4 linked regions of the Homo sapiens genome follow. The protein of the gene in region 1 purifies or fractionates together with the protein of each later gene. This does not show direct contact. Each region holds a gene or a part of one and is shown in the gene's direction. Other genes may lie near its edges.

Region 1 (5,164 bases):
GTTGTCTTTCCATTTGATCATGTAATTTCTGTTGTTACTATTGCTGATGTGTCTGTTAAGGTTTGCCTTATGATCCTTCAGTTTTAGTGTACTGGAATAGCAGGACTTATGAGACAAAGTGGTGTATTAAAAACAATGAGCAGAAGTTGAAAACAATTATCTCTTCATTGATGTCTTGGTTTGTTCTTTAATACTAACTTTTATATCCATAATGAATTAAATGCTTAATGTCTAGAGGTGTGGTAGTCTGAAGATCTCTAAAAACTTTTGTTTAGTTACTTTATTTAAATGTATTACTTTTAGTTTTCTTGCAGCAAAAATAAGTAATTCTAAAATGTTTAAAAGAATCATTTTGGGGCATTAATGTTGATTTTTAGAAAATGTAAAATATTTTTCTTATCTTTTTTAAACAGTGTTTCGGGTAGAGCTTTCCTGTACTGGCAAAGTAGATTCTGAAGTTATGATACTAATGCAGCTCAACTTGACAGTAAATTCTTCAAAAAATTTTACCGTCTTAAATTTTAAACGAAGGAAAATGTGCTACAAAAGTAAGGAATTTATTTACCAAAATATGTTTTACATGTATGTGAGAAGGTGAAAAATAGAGTTTGTTGTTTTTTCACAGATTTAAGTATGTCCAACTCATGATTATAGTTGCAAGTGAGAAAAGAGCACTGGCAGGTGAAGTTTTGAGATAATCCCAGATGGTTGGTAGCCAAGAATCTCACTCAGGCCTCATTCAGTCCATGCTTTCTCAAATCTTTTGTCAGAATTGCTAAGATGTTTTCCATTAGGAATAGTGCTAAAATGGTTGAAGAGGTAAAGAAATAAGAAAAATCTGTTGGGACTTCTGAGTAACTATGTTAACTGTGTTTCCCTTATCAAGTTACTTTTATGCAGAAGCATTGCTCTCGGGTGAGATAGACCTGGGTTGGAATGGCAGCTCTGCTCTTTTCAGGATATTGATACAAGTTACTTAACCTCTCTGAGGCTTAGTTTTTTCATCTGTAAAATGGGCATAATACCTGTTTCAGAGGTTTGTTGTTTTTTACGGTTCATTAAATCTAGCCTAAAACTTAGAATACCGTATGTGGGTACTTAGCAAAGTTAGTTCTTTTTGGTTTTGAATTATCTGTTACTGAAGAAATCGAGTGGATATGAAAGAGTTCCAGCATGCTAGGTCATAAATCAAAGAATTTTAGAGTTCTCCTTACAAGTTTAGTCCAACCCACTCACTGTAAGTTCCACAAAGCTACAGTGACCCAAATTTACAAGGTCACGTAGGTAGAATTGGTTAGTATCTAAGATGGGGGGGGGAAATATACTTTAAAAAAACCTCGCAAACCCTCAGTGCTTACTGTGTTCTAAGTGCTTGATAGGTATTACACCTGTTTAATCCCTACAGCAACCCTAGGCAATGGGTTCTCTCATTGTCTTCATTTTCAGAAAAGGAAGCTGAGCTTCAGAGAATCTAGCTTGTCAAGATCAGATAGCTAAGTGGTGCAGCTAGGATGCAGACCTGTTCTCTCAGCCTCTTTGTTAAACTTTCTTTTAATAAATTTCCCAATTGAAATCAGTGCTGAGTGTTATGAAAACACCTAAGGCCAACAAGTGAGTTGAATTGGCTAATGTCTGGGTACATGCCAATAAAAAAGCTGCACTACATTTGAATAGACATTTTAAGAAAGAAGAGTTAGCATCTTTCAGCTTTAGTGTTTTGGTACAATTTTCAGTTCTACTATATTCAGTTATATACCAACTTCCATGTAATGTTAAAGACAAAGGAGATTTCAGAGACTCTCTACTCCAATGTAGTCATTATATATTTGATATAAGGAGATTGGACCCTTGGCCACCTAGGCTACCACAGCTAGCCAGTGAGGAGTGTAAAACATTCAGTTCCTTATCCTCAGAGAGATGGGCATGACTGTACCATGGTGCTTCATCTGTTACTCTTAAGTAAGGCAGAATGATAACCAGACATGGTGTGGCCTCTGGATCCCACCAGTGCTAATATCTGCTAAGGTTAATGATCAGCTGATACTCAAAATGGTCACATACTTTCTCCATTTTCTTTAATATGTGTGTGAAATTAACATTAAAATTCTGTGTTGGAGTAATTTTCTATTCTGTTTTAGACTTAAGTTTTTCTCTGGCCCTCTGTATTTGTTGGTCATGGTTTTGGCCACCCTAGTCATCCAGTTCAGGCTCATGACTCTTACTTTATTATGTGATCCTAATGTATTTATTTATCTGGTTTTCCAGCCTACTATATTTCAAAAACTGTCTGCAACAGAAAACATCTGTACTATATGGAATGTTAGTAGGTGTTACTAGCAAGAAAAGTTTCTTTTATCATATGAGGATGGGAATTATGGGTTAGACAAGTTTTGTGACCCCATAACTCCTTTCAGTCTTTATATTCTAATGTTCACTGTGAAGCTCCAAAGAGACACTATAGTATGTGGCTTTTCCCAAACTTCTTGATCATAGGAACATTTTCACTGAGCATCTAGAAGTAACACCCTTTGGCTAACAGTGGTATAGACTATTGATTGGTGACTGTAGTGGTGATTATCAGAATAGTAACATAGCTTTCATTATCTCGCAACACATACCTGTTGCTGAGTTCCAGCAATGTTCTGATAATTATAGTAATTAAGGATTTTCATGGAAAAGAGAATTTCTAAAGCATCATTTTTCTCCTTTAAATTCAGAACTTGAAGAAGTAAAAACTTCAGCCTTGGACAAAAACACTAGCAGAACTATTTGTAAGTGTTACTGTATTATCTTTATCCATTATTAGAAATGAAAAATGGTTGACTGCATATAAACATGATTGCATGAAGCTTGGAGGCCTCATGGTATCAAATGATAATGACACCATGCTGTTATTTTGCTGGTGCTTTGTAGACTGGTGGATAGGTCATGAAACTGTTAGAATATTGAATATTTTGAGAACTAAAATTTATACGTATTTTGTAACGAGTAAGCTAAAAAGTTTTACAAGCAAGAATATCATATATTTTTGAGTAGTCATAATTAAAGTATGACCATGAAATATGTGTAAGATGTTTATTAGCAGAGGGTTAGAAAATCTGGCTTGCAGTCTGGACCTAATCTTAAGCTAATTTCATCCAGGTGAAGGTGTAAGCTTAAAGATATTATGTTACTTAAACCTACAGAGCAGGTATGCAAAGTAGATTTTTATTTTTTGGTATCGGTTGTGTTTAGATATTATTACAAACTTCTTTTTTTTTTCTGACATGAAGACATCGTTGGGTCTTACTCTTCTTGCGGTAGTGTTAATAGCAGTATCTTAAAAGGATACTAGATTCTCTTCATGCAAGTAGACTTTAAAAAATTGGTTTTGAAAACTTCAAGTATATAAAAGTTCAGAGTACGCTTTGATGAACTCCCATGTGCCCATCCCCCAGCCTCAGTAATGATCAACACTTTGCCATTGTTCTTCCATTGATTCCCTCCTTTTGTGGTTGGTTAGGGGTGGAGGAGAGTATTTTCAGGCACATCCCAGGCATCAGATTATTTCACCCATAAATATTTCAGTGTAGATCTCCTTTAAAAGGGCCTTTAAAAAACCCCCACAATCACCTAATACCTATTCATTTTGATTTATCACATATAACAAAATTAACAGCAGTTGCTTAGTATCTCCAATAGATAGTCCATGTTCAAATTAACCCGATTGTCTTTAAAATGTCTTTTTTTCCTCCTGAATCAAGATCCAAATGAAGCCTACACAACTGTTGGGTGATATATGTTTTGTATTAATCAGAAACCACCAACCCTTTTATTAATATTATTTATTTATTGAAGAAATTATGTCATTTGTCCCATAGAATTTCCCACATTCTGCATCTTCCTGAAATCATTGAACATGTTTGTTTGTTTGTTTTTCTGTAAACTGGCAGATAGATTTTGCACTTGATTAGATTTAGAACCAACTCTTTTGGTAAGAATAGTCCATAGATGGTAGGTACTCTGTGCTGCCTATTTTGTCTTTTCATCACCTTGGGAGGCACAGAGTATCTGGATGTCCCAAAGGGGAATTTTTTTGCCTGTAAAATAATGTGACATATCGTCTACTTGCTGGAATATTTCTGAAAAGAAAGAAAAAACATTAAAAAAAATGTCACTGTTGCCAAAGTTTACTTTTAAAATTCTGGTGACTTTGCCCATTTCTTTTATGCTAGTAGGATATTACTTCTCACAAAGAGCAGTACTGCATATTCTTGGCCTCTGTCTGTGTCTTCCTTGCTGCCTCTCATCTTCCCGCCCTTTCTATTTATTCATCCACCCAGTACCTATGGAGAGTCTGTGGTGTGTTAGGCGGTATGACTGAAGCAGAGGACTAAACTGTGAGCAAAGAGATCCTTTCCTCGGGGGTTTATAATGTAGTGGGAGAAATAGACGAGGCAATATAGGCAATGATACCAACATAGCATGGCAAGCTATGATAAGGCAAGCACAGGGGATTTGGGAACCCAAGGATAGCTTCCTGAGAACAGTGACAGCTCTTCTGAGAGCTGAAGGGTGACCAGATGGTGGCAAATGAAGGATGAATGAGGGAATGGGAAAAATGCATAGGAAAGCCTGGAATTTGGAGGTAATTGAGCAGGGCGCATCTAGGGGGATCTGCCCAGCAGAGCCGTATCCTTGGCTCTGCTCTGGAAAGTGCTTGGACAGTACTGCTAACATATGCCTCCAGAATTCAGAATTTTTTTCTGTCCCTCCCAAGATTGAATAGCTTTCCTGTGGCATAAGGTAATTCTTGATGAAAGTCATGCCTTCATTCAGGCTACAGCCAAGTCTAGCTGCCCTAGAAGTCATTTGGTCTCTACGTTAATCTGTTCTGATTTATTGTTTGTTGATAGGAAGGTTAAATTTTAGAAAAGTTTTATTTTTCTTATTTCCATGTGTTTTTGAAAGCTGTAAGTTTTATCTTTTATCCTGACCTATCCCCAGAACTCCAAACTTGTATATCTGTCAGTTTAACGTCTGTGCATGGAGATATGAGGTACCTAGTTAGTAGACTAGGTACTCCAAATTTAACTTGGGCAAAACTCTTGATTTTCACATCCCCAACCTGCTTATTTTTATCTTTGTAAAGTTACCCTTATCCAAGTTATTGCTTGAGCCAAAA
Region 2 (5,164 bases), on another chromosome or scaffold:
TCTTTTTTAAAAAAGTTAGTTCATCCACATTAAAAGGTAGAAGATCCATAGTTGTTCTTTTCTTATTCTTTTATGTTGGAAGGGTTTTTCCAGTGCCAATTATTCCAGTATGGCTGGGTATAGAAATCTACTATCTTTCATGTATTTTTTTTTAAGTCATGGTAAAAAAACACATAACATACAACTTACTATCTGAGCCGTTTTTAAGTGTAGAGTTCAGTCGTGTTAACTATTTTTGCATTGTTGTGAAATGGAAGAAGATTCCCATTTTTAAAGAATTATGTTTTAATAGTTAACTAATATTAAAACATACATACTGTTTCACGTATTTTTTTACAGCTGTAACATATAGACTGTAGAAAGAGAGGTAATGCATGTGTATGCGTATGTGTGTGTGCCTGTGTGTGTATTCTGTTTTCTTACAGAACGTAGGTCCCCTCCATTCCCTTCAAACCTTTTCTTAATCATGATTAGTAAAAAAAAAATTGTAATAATTATTGCTTTTGCCATCTAAAGGAATCTATTATTTTCAAAAATCCCACTGGTAATGTATATTGAAGAAACTACTTTGATTAATATAAACTTAATATAGAAAGCAACTTCTTTTTAGATAAAACATTAGTGGAAGTTGAAAGAGGATTGAGCAATATTTCGAACAGCTCTATCCCCTAATTCTCTGCATATTTTTATTCTATTTCTTTTTCTTTGTGTGGGTCTAAATACTTAGAAATGATTTTCTAAACTTCAGCATATATACTTTTTTATATTTTTCTTTCTTTTTTTATCCAAAGCCTAAATCTCTTGAACATTGAGAGAAGAACCATAGTTTCCAACCCTTTGATTTTTTCCTCTTCACTGTGTATGTTTCAACTATCTAAGATAATACAATTGTTCCCATTAATTACCAACAATAACACAATAGTTCTAATTGGATGGCAGAGAAAAATTTTTTCTCATAAGTAAAGATTAAGGTAAATAGTACAAAACCCTACCCAGGATGTTGTGCAAGTCATTAAGATCCAAGTGGATTTCAGATTTCTAAGAATTATATTTATTTTTATAACATTTTATGTTTGTGTTTATTGACTTAACCATACTCCTCAGAAACCATATTCCTCAGAAAATCCCTTTGATTACCAAAGGTGGTGAGATGATTTATTGGAGATTTTCGTATTTTTCGTAGAGAATATAAATGAGACATAATTCAAATAATTTTCTATAAATCATACTTTTTTCTCCCTTAGATATTTTATAAGGTCCGAAGCACAGGAAGACAGCTTGCACAGGGTTTGACTAAAGGTCTAGGGAATTTGAAGAAAAAAAATGACATCTAGAGTTATGATGTTTATTTATATTATTAGTCCATTTGTGAAAGAACAGTGAAAGTAAATCTACTATAGTTTATTTATAAACAAAGAAGACAAAATATTTTTATAAATCTTTCATTCCGTAAATTCTCATTTAACCATCATTCTCCAGGCCCATTTTCTCTGAATGGTTTTGAACTAGGTTGTCTGGAAGGTCCTACCCATCCCTGATGATCTGTGATACTAAATAATGATGACGATATTGACAACTTATGCTTATTTAACAGCATAGTTTTCTACAGTTAAATATCTTTCTGTGTTAAATAGTACCTCATACTCTGTGCTAGGGACTGTTTCAAGAAGTTTATATGTATATTCTCCCATCATTCACATTTTGTCCTTGGTTAGTCTAAACTGTTTTTGATCATAATACATTTAATTTCTTTAACATGCATTTTGTATTAAATTCAGAGAGACAATATCTGAAATTTCTTATAAAATAAAACTTGAAGAAAACAGATAAGTGATGTCATCTTTCGAGTTTTTTTTAAAACATTCTAAGATGCAAGGTTTCTGTATAAATGCTTAATATCTGTAGACCAATAATAAAATGGGCAGTTTTAGTAACCACTTTTTTAAGGTTATTAATCTAGTGTTAATTATTCTTGAGAATTAACAATGAAAGGTGATTATAACCTACAAAATTGGCATCTGAAATGTTATTTTTCATTATATTTAATTCTGTACTGAGCCTGGTAAGTGCAGGTATTTTCCTAATTTTTATTTTTTCACAATTTATATTTCCCCTCCCTTTTAATCACCTTAATATAGTAACAAGAAAGATGATTGTTCTGTTTAACACACACAAATATTTAACTGTAGAAAACTATACTATTAAACAGAGTCATGTTCGGTGTCAATGAGTGCTGACTAATCTGGATGAAATTCTTAAATTTATATTATGACACTAGATACATAATAAAACCGAGACTGATGTGACCAGCAAGCTTTTAATTATTATTAGCTTGTTATTAACCTATCACTCTTAATTTAGATGTAAGAAGTATTGCTTACTTATAGAGAAATGTTATATCAGCTATTGAGAAAAAGTTGTGCCAGACCCTATTCTAAGCACGTCATATGCATTATAATAATTCTTCTCATCTACCACTAGAGTATAAACATGCTACAATTTTATGTACTGCTAGGGTAAAATGCTGCCAATTTAACTCTGACAAATGCTTATTTTTGATTTCTTTAATATTTGTCCTGTTTTAATACATGCAAAAATAAGGGGTTTTTAATATTAGAATTGTTGGAATATAGCTTATTTAATTCTGACAGCAATCCCATTAGGTAGGTATGATTATTATTCTTATTCTACAGATGGGAAAAGGAGACACTGAGAGGTTATGTAATTTGCTCAAATGCACACAGACAGGAATGAGTGGGCTGGAAGATAGCCACAGCCACATGGCTTCAGAAACTGCAAAGATAACTATGCCATGATATTATCTAAGTAACAGCAAACAAACAAAAAACCTCACAGGCTATTTGATTGTCAGAGACCAGAGATTACCTATGCATATTACTGAAACATAACGTGAAGATAACAGCGATTGAGTAGCTTGCCCTACCTCTCAGAGCTAGCTAGTGATAGCATTAGAATTCGATCCTAGAATTACTGATCCCAGAGTAATCTAAAGACTTTACCTTCAAACACAAAGTTTCCAAACAAATGTTAAATAAAATAGTTTATACTTGAAGTTCTTTCTTAAACTAGATTTTAAAAATGGTGTGGAATTTAAACTGTCATGTTTAAGTTTTCTCTCCCTGACATACCTTTTGTCATTGGGTACACAGAAACATTGCAATGATTAAAATCGAAGCACCGGAATAAAAAAGTGCACATTGTTTTTATGCCATAAATGCATAATGCCTTTAATAAGCATTTTTGATCCGTATTTCATTGTCACTTTGTTTCTATTATATTTCATTCCCTTTTCCCATGAAACAGTATATAATGCAAGCAGAGCTTTCAGTGTCTGTATTCTGCAATCTGTAGGAAAATGTCTCATAGTTATTGGAATTCACACAAGACTGCATCTCAGTATGAGTAGCTCTTCCCTGTCACTGTTTTTGATGCTTGAGCTAAAGAATATTTTACAAAATGGTTTAGTGTTCAGTGTATGAATTTTTGAGATAGGACTTCTCCCTTGTAGGGGTGAAATCCGAAAATCAGTGTCAGATGGAAATCTTAGCTCTAAGAGTTAGGGAGATTGGTGGAAGGGTTTTAAACTAACTGTGAATTTTAGCCTCTAGACTTTGGAAATGTGGCAGTTATCATGAGTATGAAATTCATGGATGCAGATGGTTGATTAAGATATCCCAGGATGGGCCACTGCTATAAATCTCCACAGAAAAATTGAGAAAACCATTTTGATAAGGAACATATTTTTGACCTTTTATGTAAATTCATAACACAGGTTTTGCTGGATTCATTAAATGCGTATAAGTGAAATAACCATTGGTTTCATAAAATTGCCAATTGAGTCATGTGATAGAAATATTTAATAGAATTAAAATATGTCAAATGGTGAGTAAGAGGGGTGCGTGAGAGGAGAACTCCCATGTATTAAACTATTATTATGTGTCTTGTATTTCACATTTTCTACCTAATTCAAGACAACTGTCTTCAAGGTAAGTCTAATTTCCCTCCACATTAAGATAAAGTTATGGGTGCCTAGGTGATCTTGAGCCTACATCACCAACCAAGGACACACTGATAGCTAGAGTACAACGGGGCTCAGTTTGTTACACAGCCTAGAACTCTATTGTTTAAATAATACCAAATGGAGCAGGAGCAAAATGGTAACATTATCTGCTACTTTTAAATAATAAAATAGGAAAGATATAAAGCCAAAACCCTTTTGCTTTTGTCTTACTTGGTCTTTTATTTTCTTTTTAAAAAAATATTCATACACGAAATCTGATTTAGTGTATGAATATTATACGACACACCTTTATTTTCCTGTTATTGCTGTATTATGAATATTATACCACATACCTGTATTTTCCTGTGCTTCATGATTATGTAGTCATATTACCCAAGTATATTTACATAATTATGTACAAGCACACAAATAAATATGTTCAGTCCTTAGAATAGGTGTTCTTGTTGATATCAGCTTTAAAACTAAAATAATTAGGTAAATCATTTAGCAATAATTCTCTGAAGATTTTTACATTATATTTTAGAGTAATAAAGTTATTTACAATTAATAGATATTTACTAATAACACTAAATTTTTTCTTTCTTCATAAAGACAGCTTTTTGGAAAACCCCAAGGCTAGTAAATGACACATATACACACACATATATGTTATTTACATACTTAAATACATGCATACATATTTGGGGAATAACTCCTAACATATTAAAATATTTAAATTGTTAGTAACATTGCTCTCCAAAGTGCAATAAATTAAGAAAAATGATAAGCAATATTTTACATCTCAGTCACTGTGAAACATTGCATATATAACAAGTATTAGAGAAAGCATGTTGGGCATCAGTCTGGCTCACTCACTAGATAAAGAAGTTTTTCACCCTTTTACCATGAAGGTTCCAAAACTGCACCTCAGAAAAATGGCAAATAAAATACATCATGGACTGGAGAATTGTTAGAGTTAAGTCCTGACATGCCCAACTGGGAATAGTCAAACATCTTATGCCATTTTAGGTAAGATTGACCTGGAAAATAATTTCTAACAAATCACAGGACAATTTCTGGCTACAATTCCAAATAGCATTTAGGAATCTTTGCACTTAATATAGATCTGTTATGTGAAATGTG
Region 3 (5,164 bases), on another chromosome or scaffold:
TACAGACACACATCATCACACCCGGCTAATTTTTGTATTTTTAGTAGAAATGGGGGTTTCACCATGTTGGCCAGGCTGGTCTCGAACTCCCGACCTCAGGTGATCCACCCGCCTTGGCCTCCCAAAGTGTTAGGATTACAGGTGTGAGCCACTGCGCCTGACCTATTTTTTTGTTTGTTTTTATTTTTTTAAAAAAAGAATTTAATGCCCCCAATTAACTCTTCCCTAGAATGTCCTTTGGACAGGTGGCAACAAGGCTTGACAAAATTAAACTGGTTTTTATATGGGCTAATAAACTTATAAGAATAGTTAAGACAATTGGAACTGGAAAGGATATGCAGCTCAGTGGAACAAAATAAACTGACCCCAATACAGATGGGAATGATAAGAAAGCTAGCATTACAAGCCAATTGACGGGGTAGGGGAAGATGCCAGGCCTTAGAGGTGACCCTTACAGGAATAGCTGGTTGGCAGCTGCGAGGAAGATCGGGAGACACGGCAGATGGATGCCACATCAGTCCTGGGGAGATGAGGTGGGAAGGCTCTCTGCAGCATGAGTGCCTACCCAGACAAGTCCCCATTTTCCCCCCTTCCCAGCTCCTGGCTGTTGAAGTGAACACCCCAGAGAAGTTCAGTTCCACAGCGGATGTTGTGATCCAGCTCCTGGACACCAATGACAATGTCCCCAAGTTCGACTCCCTCTACTACGTTGCCAGGATTCCTGAGAACGCCCCAGGGGGCTCCAGCGTGGTGGCTGTCACAGTGGGTTGGGCACTGGCCCAGGGACTGGGTGGGATAGGAGGCCTTGTGAAGCCAGACAAATCTGGAAGGTCATTGCAGTTTGAGTGGCAGAACCCACACTCATTAGCTGTCCTTGGACAAGCTACTTGCCCTCTCTTAGCCTCAGTTTCTTCATCCATATGATGGGTATTACAACACCTCACAGGACAGTAATGAGGATATATGTGTAAACAACAATCACAGGGCATGGGACCCATCCCCTCTTCCTCATTTATAAAGGAGGGATGAGTGTTTTCCAGATCTAAATCTCTTGGCTCTTTCAATACTTAAAACTTCTTGGAGGAAAACTAGGGATCCCGGGCAGGTCTCTCCACCAATTTCTCCCCAGTTGGGCAAACCCCAAATCCCCTTGCTTTGTGGTTGAAAGCAACCCTCAGGGCATGGGAGCTGCCAACATACCCTGACAAAGAGGCACGTGCCACCCAGGGCTCTTTCTCTTCCAGGCTGTGGATCCAGATACAGGACCCTGGGGCGAAGTGAAATATTCCACCTATGGGACTGGGGCAGACCTGTAAGTAGATCCAGAATCCAGGACAGGGCCTTGGGCAAGGGGATTGGAAGGCTGAGGGTGGAGGAGGTCTGTGGCAGAGGCAGGAGGGGCCTGGGAGGGACAGGAGCCTGGGTGAAGAGAAGTGGAGAGAGGCAGTGGAAAGCTGAAGCAGAGGGTGAGGAAGTTCAGGGCCCAGGACCTCAGGAGCCAGGCAAGCAGGGCTGGCTGGGGAGGGGGCAGGCCATAGGAAGAGAGAAAGACTATAACTGGAGTTGCTAAGCTGGATAGTGATAGATGGGTGAGTCCACATGTGGATCTACCTCACTTAGATTGCAAGGATAGGAGGGAGCAGGTAGGACACTTTGGAGGAGCTGCATGACACCTCACTCCTGCTTCAGGAGGCAGCTCATTATTGCAGGCATGTGTATGTATGCACATATGTGTATATGCGTGCACACCCATGCCTATGTGCTCTGCCTGGCAGCTTCCTGATCCACCCATCCACTGGGCTTATCTACACCCAGCCCTGGGCTAGCCTGGACGCTGAGGCCACTGCCAGGTACAACTTCTATGTGAAGGCAGAGGACATGGAAGGCAAGTACAGCGTAGCTGAGGTGTTTATCACACTGCTGGATGTCAATGACCACCCCCCTCAGTTTGGAAAGAGCGTTCAGAAGAAGACGATGGTGCTAGGGACCCCAGTGAAAATTGAGGTAAGTTTTGGAGGCAGCTGAGCTCCCCTAAAAGCCTGGGTCCAGCAGCTCCAAGAGATACTGAGGCATAAGAATTTCATTGAAGATAAAATTTTTTGGCTTCCCACCATGGACAAAGGACTTTAAGACATTTTGTATATCCCCATCCCCACCTCAACAGAGAATTAAACTCTGAGAAAGAAGATATTGCTATTCAACAAATGAAAAAAACAGGCCAGGTGGGTTAAGTGTTTGGCTTGCCTTCACATAGCTGGTCTGCCTGCTTTTCAAAAGAGTGGTTTTCTCACCGCACTTTGTCATTTTGCCAATGTGGCAAAAAGGATGAACTCTGAAACCCAGCAGACTTGACTTTGAATCCTGACTCCCTTTCTTATACCTCTGCATCCATGGGAAAGCCACTTTGCATCTAAGCTTTCATTTCTGCATCTGTAATATGGATTCACCAATATTTGCTTCCTAGACTTGTTCTGATAATGGAATCGGCTAGCCCATGTGTAAGACCTACGTAAACCCTGGCTTATAGGAGAGCATGCATTCTGTTCCTTTCCCAACTCAATCCTCTCAAAATAGGATCAGGACCATTTCCCATCAACCCAGCAAGCCCCATATGACGTGCTGATTTAGCCAGAGTACACAAGGATTGTCCCCAAAGCCCAGCTCTGTCTGTCTCTCCCTGCGCACAGGCCATAGACGAGGATGCAGAGGAACCCAACAACCTGGTGGACTATTCCATCACCCATGCAGAGCCCGCCAACGTGTTCGACATCAATTCCCACACGGGGGAGATCTGGCTCAAGAATTCCATCCGCTCCCTGGATGCCCTGCACAACATCACACCTGGAAGGGACTGCCTATGGTCCCTAGAGGTGCAGGCCAAGGACCGGGGCTCCCCATCCTTCAGCACCACAGCCTTACTCAAGATTGACATCACAGATGCTGAGGTGAGTACAAAGCCATGGTCAGGAAAAAGGGGTCAGCAGGCCAGCTCAGACCTCTCTGCAACGTGGGCAGAGCGAGAAGGACCATCTCCAGGCTTCCTCCAAAAGACACTCAACGTTATCAAAGGCAGCCTGTGCCATCAAACACACAGTCTTTGGAAGCGGGTTGAGTTTCTAGTTCAATACTTATTAATGGTGTGACTTTGGGCTTTGCTAAGCCTCTGTTACCTTTCCTGTAAGATGGGATAAGGATGCCTCCTTCACACGGGTGTTGAAAAGCAGAGTGAAGTCATTATGTGTAGCTCTCAGCTCAGTGTCTGGCAGAAAACTAGTCACTTAAGAGACTCCTGATACATCTGGGCAGATGGACCCCCTCCCCCACTTGCCACAATCAAAGGCAAGTGATCTCCTACCATCTCAAGGACAGACTCCAGCTAAAGCAGGAGTTCTGAATCCAAAAGAGGTTGCTCGCATTGCGTTCTGTCTGAGCATATTGTACCAGAGAGTGGTCTGCACCATGCTGGGTCTGCGTGCATTTTTCTGGAGAACTGCATGCATCATGCTCTCTCTGTGTGCATTTTCCTGGACAAAAGCCCATAGTGCCTATCAGATTCTCAAAGGGACTCCTGACTCCAGAAAGTTTAAAAACCATTAGGCTTAAGGAAGCACATACCTACTCTGTACTCCAGGGACCAGGTGGGAACAGCTGAGTGCAGGGAGTGGCTTTCTCTTTCAGACCCTCTCCCGGAGCCCCATGGCTGCCTTCCTGATACAGACCAAGGACAACCCCATGAAGGCCGTGGGTGTGCTGGCCGGCACCATGGCCACCGTCGTGGCCATCACTGTCCTCATCTCCACCGCCACCTTCTGGCGCAACAAGAAGTCTAACAAGGTCCTGCCAATGCGGCGGGTGCTCCGCAAGCGGCCCAGCCCTGCGCCCCGCACCATCCGCATTGAGTGGCTCAAGTCCAAGAGCACCAAAGCCGCTACCAAGTTCATGCTCAAAGAGAAACCTCCCAATGAGAACTGTAACAACAACAGCCCAGAAAGCTCTCTGCTCCCGAGAGCTCCGGCTCTCCCTCCACCACCCAGCGTGGCGCCCAGCACTGGCGCAGCCCAGTGGACCGTGCCTACTGTCTCTGGCTCTCTCACTCCGCAGCCGACCCAACCCCCGCCAAAACCCAAAACTATGGGAAGCCCCGTCCAGTCAACTCTGATCTCTGAGCTCAAGCAAAAGTTTGAGAAGAAGAGTGTGCACAACAAGGCTTACTTCTAGTGTATGCCCTATGACCCCCCATCTTTCCTCCGCCCCTGACCCCCACCACCCTGCTGCTCGGACTATGCTCCCCTTCCTCTGCTCCTTAAGGTCACTGACCCCTGTTTTGCACAATGGTATAATCCCCACTGTCCTCATCTCTACCGCCACCTTCTGGCGCAACAAGAAGTTGCGCTCTGACAGGGCTCTAGTCAGGGCCTTGGGCAAGACATTGGGCTCTAGGATGCAATTGGCAAATACGTCCCCGTTACTCAAATCCTTGGCACTACTACAATGCCCTCCATTCTTCAGGGCTGAGAATTGACGAGAAGCCAGCTCACCCATCCCAGACCTCACAGTCCCTCAGGTTCTACTGGGATCTCATCATCATCCTTAGTCAAGCAGCAGGGCCCTGGCCACGTGGAGCAACACTGACTAGAATCTGGATCCTGACGCCTGCAGCTGAGAGCAGGAGCAGGAAAAGGAGGCTCAGCACTGTCTCAGGCTGGAGGTCAGCGAACCTCGTGGGCTGTAGGAAAGCAAATGTAGGTAAGGGGAGAGCAAGGATGCACAGAAAACACACTGACTGTGGGACTGTGCCAGGATGCATTTGGAAAGATAGAGCATTCTGTCTGGGCAGAGACTGTGGACCCTGGTATGCCCACGTGGGACAGAGGACACAGAGGTGGAAGATTGATCTTGCCAAGAGTGAGGGCAGATGTCTCCAGCCAGGACTGCCCTGAGCCGCAAAATGTCAAAGCTGGAGCTATAGAGGTAGCCCTAAAGGCAACTAGAAGAGCATCAGGGCTGCTCTCTGAGGAGCTGCCCCACCAGCCATCCTTGAAGAGACAATTCAGGGCAGTTGATGAATATCAGGGCTGAGATGTGGTGAGACTTCCGTTTTTATCCAGCTCTTTTGCTCACATCGCGTAACCTTGGGAAAGCTGTTTAAAGTCGCTGATCATCC
Region 4 (5,164 bases), on another chromosome or scaffold:
GACAGAGGCCCCTCAACATGGATATCTTCTCAACCTGGACAAAGGCAACCACAGCATCACTCAGTTCACACAAGGTATGTTTCATGTTTCTTTTCTTGGTTATCCTTGTTTCCTGAGAATGTGGCTTCACTAAAAGCCTCACAAACAGAGCATTAAATTAGAGTCCAAGAGAAGGAAAGGAAACAAAGGGGATGGGGAGAATATAGGGACTCACTTTCCTAGGAGGACAGCTCCCTTCTTGTCCTACCTCCCATCTCAGTGGCCTTCATTAGAGGGAGTACTGATGTATTTTGAAAGTGGCAAGGATAGGCTGCCGAAGCAGGAGGTGAACTTTGGTGAATTAAAATCGAAGCAGGCTTTCCAATTCTGCTCCATTTGCCATACCTATCCAACGCATCCTCTGTGTTGTATGCTGCAGGTGGTTCATGAAGCATTTTGGCACCTTAATGAAGGATGTGCTTTCTAAATACTGTTTATTCACATTGCTGTCATTATCAATTACCATTCCAAAAAAGCCTTCAAACTTAGGTTACTTTGAATAAATTTTAAGAGCATTGCTCTGACACGGTTATAGTTGTTAGGAACTTTGTAACTAAAAGATTTGTTTACATTTATTTACTTTGTTGATTTTTAAAATTGTTAATAATATTTCATGACAGGCAAATACTCATCCAGAGACGTAATTGATAAACACCTATCTAGAGTTATAACAATGATATTTACAGGGCATGCTACTAGGATATACATGAAAAAGGAAAGTATACTTAAAGATGTGTAAAATAACAATATGTTCATCACCAAAATATACATCTAATTCATTATTAAGAGCATGAAGATAAGTAGACAAGCTTAATATTAGAAGGGGGAAATTATTTCATCATTGTGAACCTCCTCTCTGACCTGTTGCAAACACAGTGACAAAAAACAGTTGCTTCAGGCACCTGCGGTCTTTAGGCAACAGGATTTTTCTAACCTGAATTTCCTTTGTGGGTGGACACAATCTGAGGCAGAAAGGACAAGTGTCCTATGCAGAGTTATTTAGTGAGGGAAGGGAGAAGCCCATTCACTATACTGGCTTGGGAGTCAGGGCTCCGTTCTGCAGAACATGCAACTTTCATTACAGTGGGATTTGGGTTGCTTTCATGAAAATCTCACCATGTCAGAATGGACACTAGATCTTTCCTATGTGGGATCCATGGGTAGAGATGGAGCTTAACCCCAGGGCATCCCAGTGGGGGTGTTCTTTTCCTGCAACTGTGTTGTACTCTTAGATAACAAATGCTTTAATAAACATGGAAGTAGCAAAATGCACTGTTAAAGTGGACTACTTCTCTGTTTGAGGTGCTGGCAAATAGCTCCACACTCCAACCTCCTGATTCTTGGCTAAAAGCCTGAATGTCTCCCAGGGCCTGCAGGGACAGGAAAACCTCAAAGTGCCAAGTGTCATGCCAGACCAGTAGGAAACTTTTATGTGAAGGCTTTCTGAGGCTAGCGATGCCATGCCGTCTTACACTGGTTTATTTTCATGGAGAGGGAAGAGAATGAAAGGAATATATTAGATAATAGAAAATGGTTCTTCAAATTACTCCTCTGACCTGAAAAAGAAATCTGATTTAGAGATTTTTAAAAGGACTATTTTGATGAAGACAGGCAAATGATTTAATTTAAATTCTGTGGACTAAGTCCAACAGCTCACAATATTAGAATATTATTTCTGAAATTTTGAACTCTAAAAATTATGCTATTTCATTATAGGCAGTTGTTCTTTCTCTTACTGACTTTGAGTCACCATGATTAATTTTTGTCATCTTTGTAAATGTAGAGAAGTTATGCTTATTATGTGATGTGACTTTTTAAGAATTTTTAAGGAAAATTATCACATTCCAATATAAACCAAAATATTGACTAGGGAAGCTGTTGGTATTCAATCACATGGCACTCATTCAAACAAGTCAAGGCTAGACTTTGATCCGTAGCTGTTATTTATGGAGATTAGATAAGTGATTTAAAAAACGGAGAAAGCGCCATCAGAAAGCTACCATGGCTCTTTTTCCACTAGGAGAAATGAAAGCAGTGCTTAAGAGTGAAGACTATGCAGTCCTTTTATTTCTTTTTGTTTTTGCTTTATCATGAAGGGATAAGGTAAACCTATATTTTGATGGATTTTCAATGCATTGAATTAGGTCAGTTTAGCACAGGTAGCTAGAGAAGGTTATTCCTAAATTGATTGACTAAATGGTTCCTAGAAGAAAAAAATTAATTCCTTTCTAAAACTTATTAAATTGATGAAAAGTTAACAATGTATAATTAGGTAAATTATGGATATCATTTATTTATTTCAAACTTCACCTCTTTGCCAAGTTGCCCCTGTTCCCCTTAACCCAGATCTAAATTGCATGTCTCAAGTACCTGGATTTTTCTTCCCTACAATAAGTACGTAATGATATATTCTGTGGGATAATTTATAAGCCAGTTTCAGGAAAGCAGAAATGTCTTCAAAGAGTTTGAACCAGATGTGGCTGCCTGATATGTTAATGAACTTAGAATTAAAAACAAACAAACAAAAAAATCTCATGGAATAATTTTGTAGATAAACTGAAATAAATTTAATGTATATTTAACAACTAGAAGAAAATCTAGATAATTCTTAGATATTTGCTTTAAAAAGATTACATTTTGGCTATTAGATTATATTTCTACTACTTTTGTGTCTTAAGAAAGCTAGACGTTATTACATTTATATATACATAAATATGTAACGTGTGTTTATGTTATTTGTAGAGGTGCCTTTAGAATACCAGTATGATGATGAAAGTCTTTACTTACTTTTTTTAGAGGCTCTTTTTTGAACCATGAATTATTAATTAATTATATGAAAAATATAAAAGGTTTTAGTATGTTCCAACTAATCAATAACACATGCCCTAACTTGGAGGGAAAATTGGGTACCAGAGTGCCATATAGTTGCATTTATGTTTTCTTTATCTGAAAAAAGAAAAGTTCTTAAAATTCTGTTTTGAAGTGAGGATTTATTTCAATGAAACTATCCCTTAACGATTACAATTTCGCTTAAGAAAACATTGATACAGATGCTGGGCATGCTAAACAGTGCCTTTTCTCCTAGTAGAGCCTTTAGATTTTCTTATGCAATTTGAAGGGGTGGGAACATTGGAAGAGGGTCTTCTCCACATGGCCAGAGGTCATGGTTCTTGTGGTAAAGATGTGTAGTCAGCAGAGTTTACTGCATTTTTTTACTGATAAAGTGAAGGTTATACAATTAAGAATTATAACAGTAAACAGGCAAAGAGTTGTGTAGGGGCTTCAGTTCTTACCCTGGCAGAAACATCATACATGCAAAGGTAGAGATACAAGTGTGATCTACCTACTCAGCCTTTTCATTTTAAATTGAGAAACATTTGCGCCTTTGCTACTGTAATATCCTAAGCAAAGAGCTGTGGGAAGTTAAGATAGGAAAAAAAAATCCCAGAAGTTTTTCATCTACTGGGAAAGATAACCATACAGAAAGATAAAAGTGAAACTAGGCAGCAAGTGTGGAAAGTTATAGTAGAGTTAGAAATATGGGGCCTGGCTAGGTGGCTTACACCTATAATCATAGCACTTTGGGAGGCTGATGTGGGAGGATTGCTTGAGGCCAGCCTGGGCGACATAGTGAGACCCACATATCTATATTTTGTTTTAAAAAACAAATGAAGTGCTAAGGGAGAATCAAGCGACTTAGGCATGTTTTACCTCCAAATACCTCTATTAGCAGGAGGGTACCATTAACTATAAAATCAGATTTTCCATTCTGCAAGTGTTCCTAATAATGAGTCACCTTTCAAAACTTTATGAGCCAGGGTAGACCACACATTTTACATCTGTAAAGTGGAGCTATAGAAATTTGTGGCATCATTGGTCCATCCTAATGCCTTGCCTCACTTGAGATTAACATTTCATAAAGCCATTGTCTTCTTTATAAGCCTTTGAATTCCATAGCATGAACTTACTAGAGCTTTTAGGAGATGAAAAAACCATAGAACACACACTAGACAGATAAATATTACCTATCATTGTCATAGCTATTTTTAGCCATGATCTTGACTTTATGTAGTCTTAGAAACTCACTGATTGGCCCAGATCAATTAATGATCTATTATGAGTATCACAGAACAAAACGATTTTTTTCTTATTATGTTGTATGTGTGGCATCATTAAGGAAAGGAACTGGTAAGATGGATGAATAAGTTTTAAAAATTGTGTCTTCATAATGAAAACAAATGTATGCATGTGAATTTGATAAAGTAGGAAACAACATAAGGAACATTTCTGAGGCAATATAACTTTCTGCCATGAATAAAGGTTTCCACTTTTTTTTTTTTTTTGAGACAGGGTCTCATTCTCTTGCCCAGGCTAGAGTGCAGTGGTGCGACCTCAGCTCACTGCAACCTTTGCCTCCCAGGCTCAAGCAATTCTCCTGCCTCAGCCTCCCGAATAGCTGGGATTACAGGAACGCACCACCACACCCAGCCAATTTTTAATAGAGACAGGGTTTCACCATGTTGGCCAGGCTGGTCTTGAACTCCTGACCTCACATAATCCACCTGCCTCAGCCTCCCAAAGTGCTGGGATTATACGCATGAGCCACCGTGTCCAGCCCGTTTCCACTTTTATTAGATGTTTTTTGTTCTCAACAGGGAGTCATCAGTTATTTCAATGTGTGTGATTTTTTGAAAATATCATCTTATTTTTTTCTCTCAAACTTTGGAGAGCTTAAAAAATAGCCTGCTACAGCACAAAAAGTAAGAAAAGTTAGCCAGTGTTGGGGAGCAAAGCTCTGTCCTCTGCGGGCCAGTTCCCTACTGGGAGGCAAAGGATGTGATTTCAAGAGTGCCAGGAAATCTGCCATGCCTCAAAATATCTTCCTTTCCACCTGTCATGGTGCCTGACATTCCATATTTAGACAGTCATTCCTTTGGTGCATGAACATGCAAATACCACTGGGAGGGGAAACACCTTGCTATTATTATAAACTAACTCTTGCACTGTATTTATCTGTGTGAGGGATCAGGTGTCCATGGGACAGCTGAAATCTAGGGGCTTAGAGATCTGAGAAATAAGACAGCACTGTTTCTGTTAGGAGGAAAAAGGAATTTAAACATGTTTA

The links. Proteins that work in one complex are often made in the same cells at the same time.
Region 2: the proteins of RYK (region 1) and PCDH9 purify together in Homo sapiens (affinity purification with mass spectrometry; 2 studies listed by BioGRID and IntAct, with this or other methods). This does not show direct contact.
Region 3: the proteins of RYK (region 1) and CDHR1 purify together in Homo sapiens (affinity purification with mass spectrometry; 2 studies listed by BioGRID and IntAct, with this or other methods). This does not show direct contact.
Region 4: the proteins of RYK (region 1) and FREM2 purify together in Homo sapiens (affinity purification with mass spectrometry; 2 studies listed by BioGRID and IntAct, with this or other methods). This does not show direct contact.

Annotation. Positions count from the first base shown.
Region 1 is NC_000003.12:134,205,079-134,210,242, reverse strand, and holds part of RYK (tyrosine-protein kinase RYK isoform 2 precursor), read left to right. Parts: intron 1-413; coding exon 414-548; intron 549-2,717; coding exon 2,718-2,771; intron 2,772-5,164. UniProt on the Homo sapiens protein: May be a coreceptor along with FZD8 of Wnt proteins, such as WNT1, WNT3, WNT3A and WNT5A. Involved in neuron differentiation, axon guidance, corpus callosum establishment and neurite outgrowth.
Region 2 is NC_000013.11:66,897,806-66,902,969, reverse strand, and holds part of PCDH9 (protocadherin-9 isoform 1 precursor), read left to right. Parts: intron 1-5,164.
Region 3 is NC_000010.11:84,210,404-84,215,567, forward strand, and holds part of CDHR1 (cadherin-related family member 1 isoform 1 precursor), read left to right. Parts: intron 1-597; coding exon 598-762; intron 763-1,244; coding exon 1,245-1,312; intron 1,313-1,775; coding exon 1,776-2,004; intron 2,005-2,164; coding exon of another isoform or gene 2,165-2,179; exon of another isoform or gene 2,180-2,222; intron 2,223-2,687; coding exon 2,688-2,945; intron 2,946-3,678; coding exon 3,679-4,218; 3' UTR 4,219-5,164. UniProt on the Homo sapiens protein: Potential calcium-dependent cell-adhesion protein. May be required for the structural integrity of the outer segment (OS) of photoreceptor cells.
Region 4 is NC_000013.11:38,692,444-38,697,607, forward strand, and holds part of FREM2 (FRAS1-related extracellular matrix protein 2 precursor), read left to right. Parts: coding exon 1-74; intron 75-5,164. UniProt on the Homo sapiens protein: Extracellular matrix protein required for maintenance of the integrity of the skin epithelium and for maintenance of renal epithelia. Required for epidermal adhesion. Involved in the development of eyelids and the anterior segment of the eyeballs.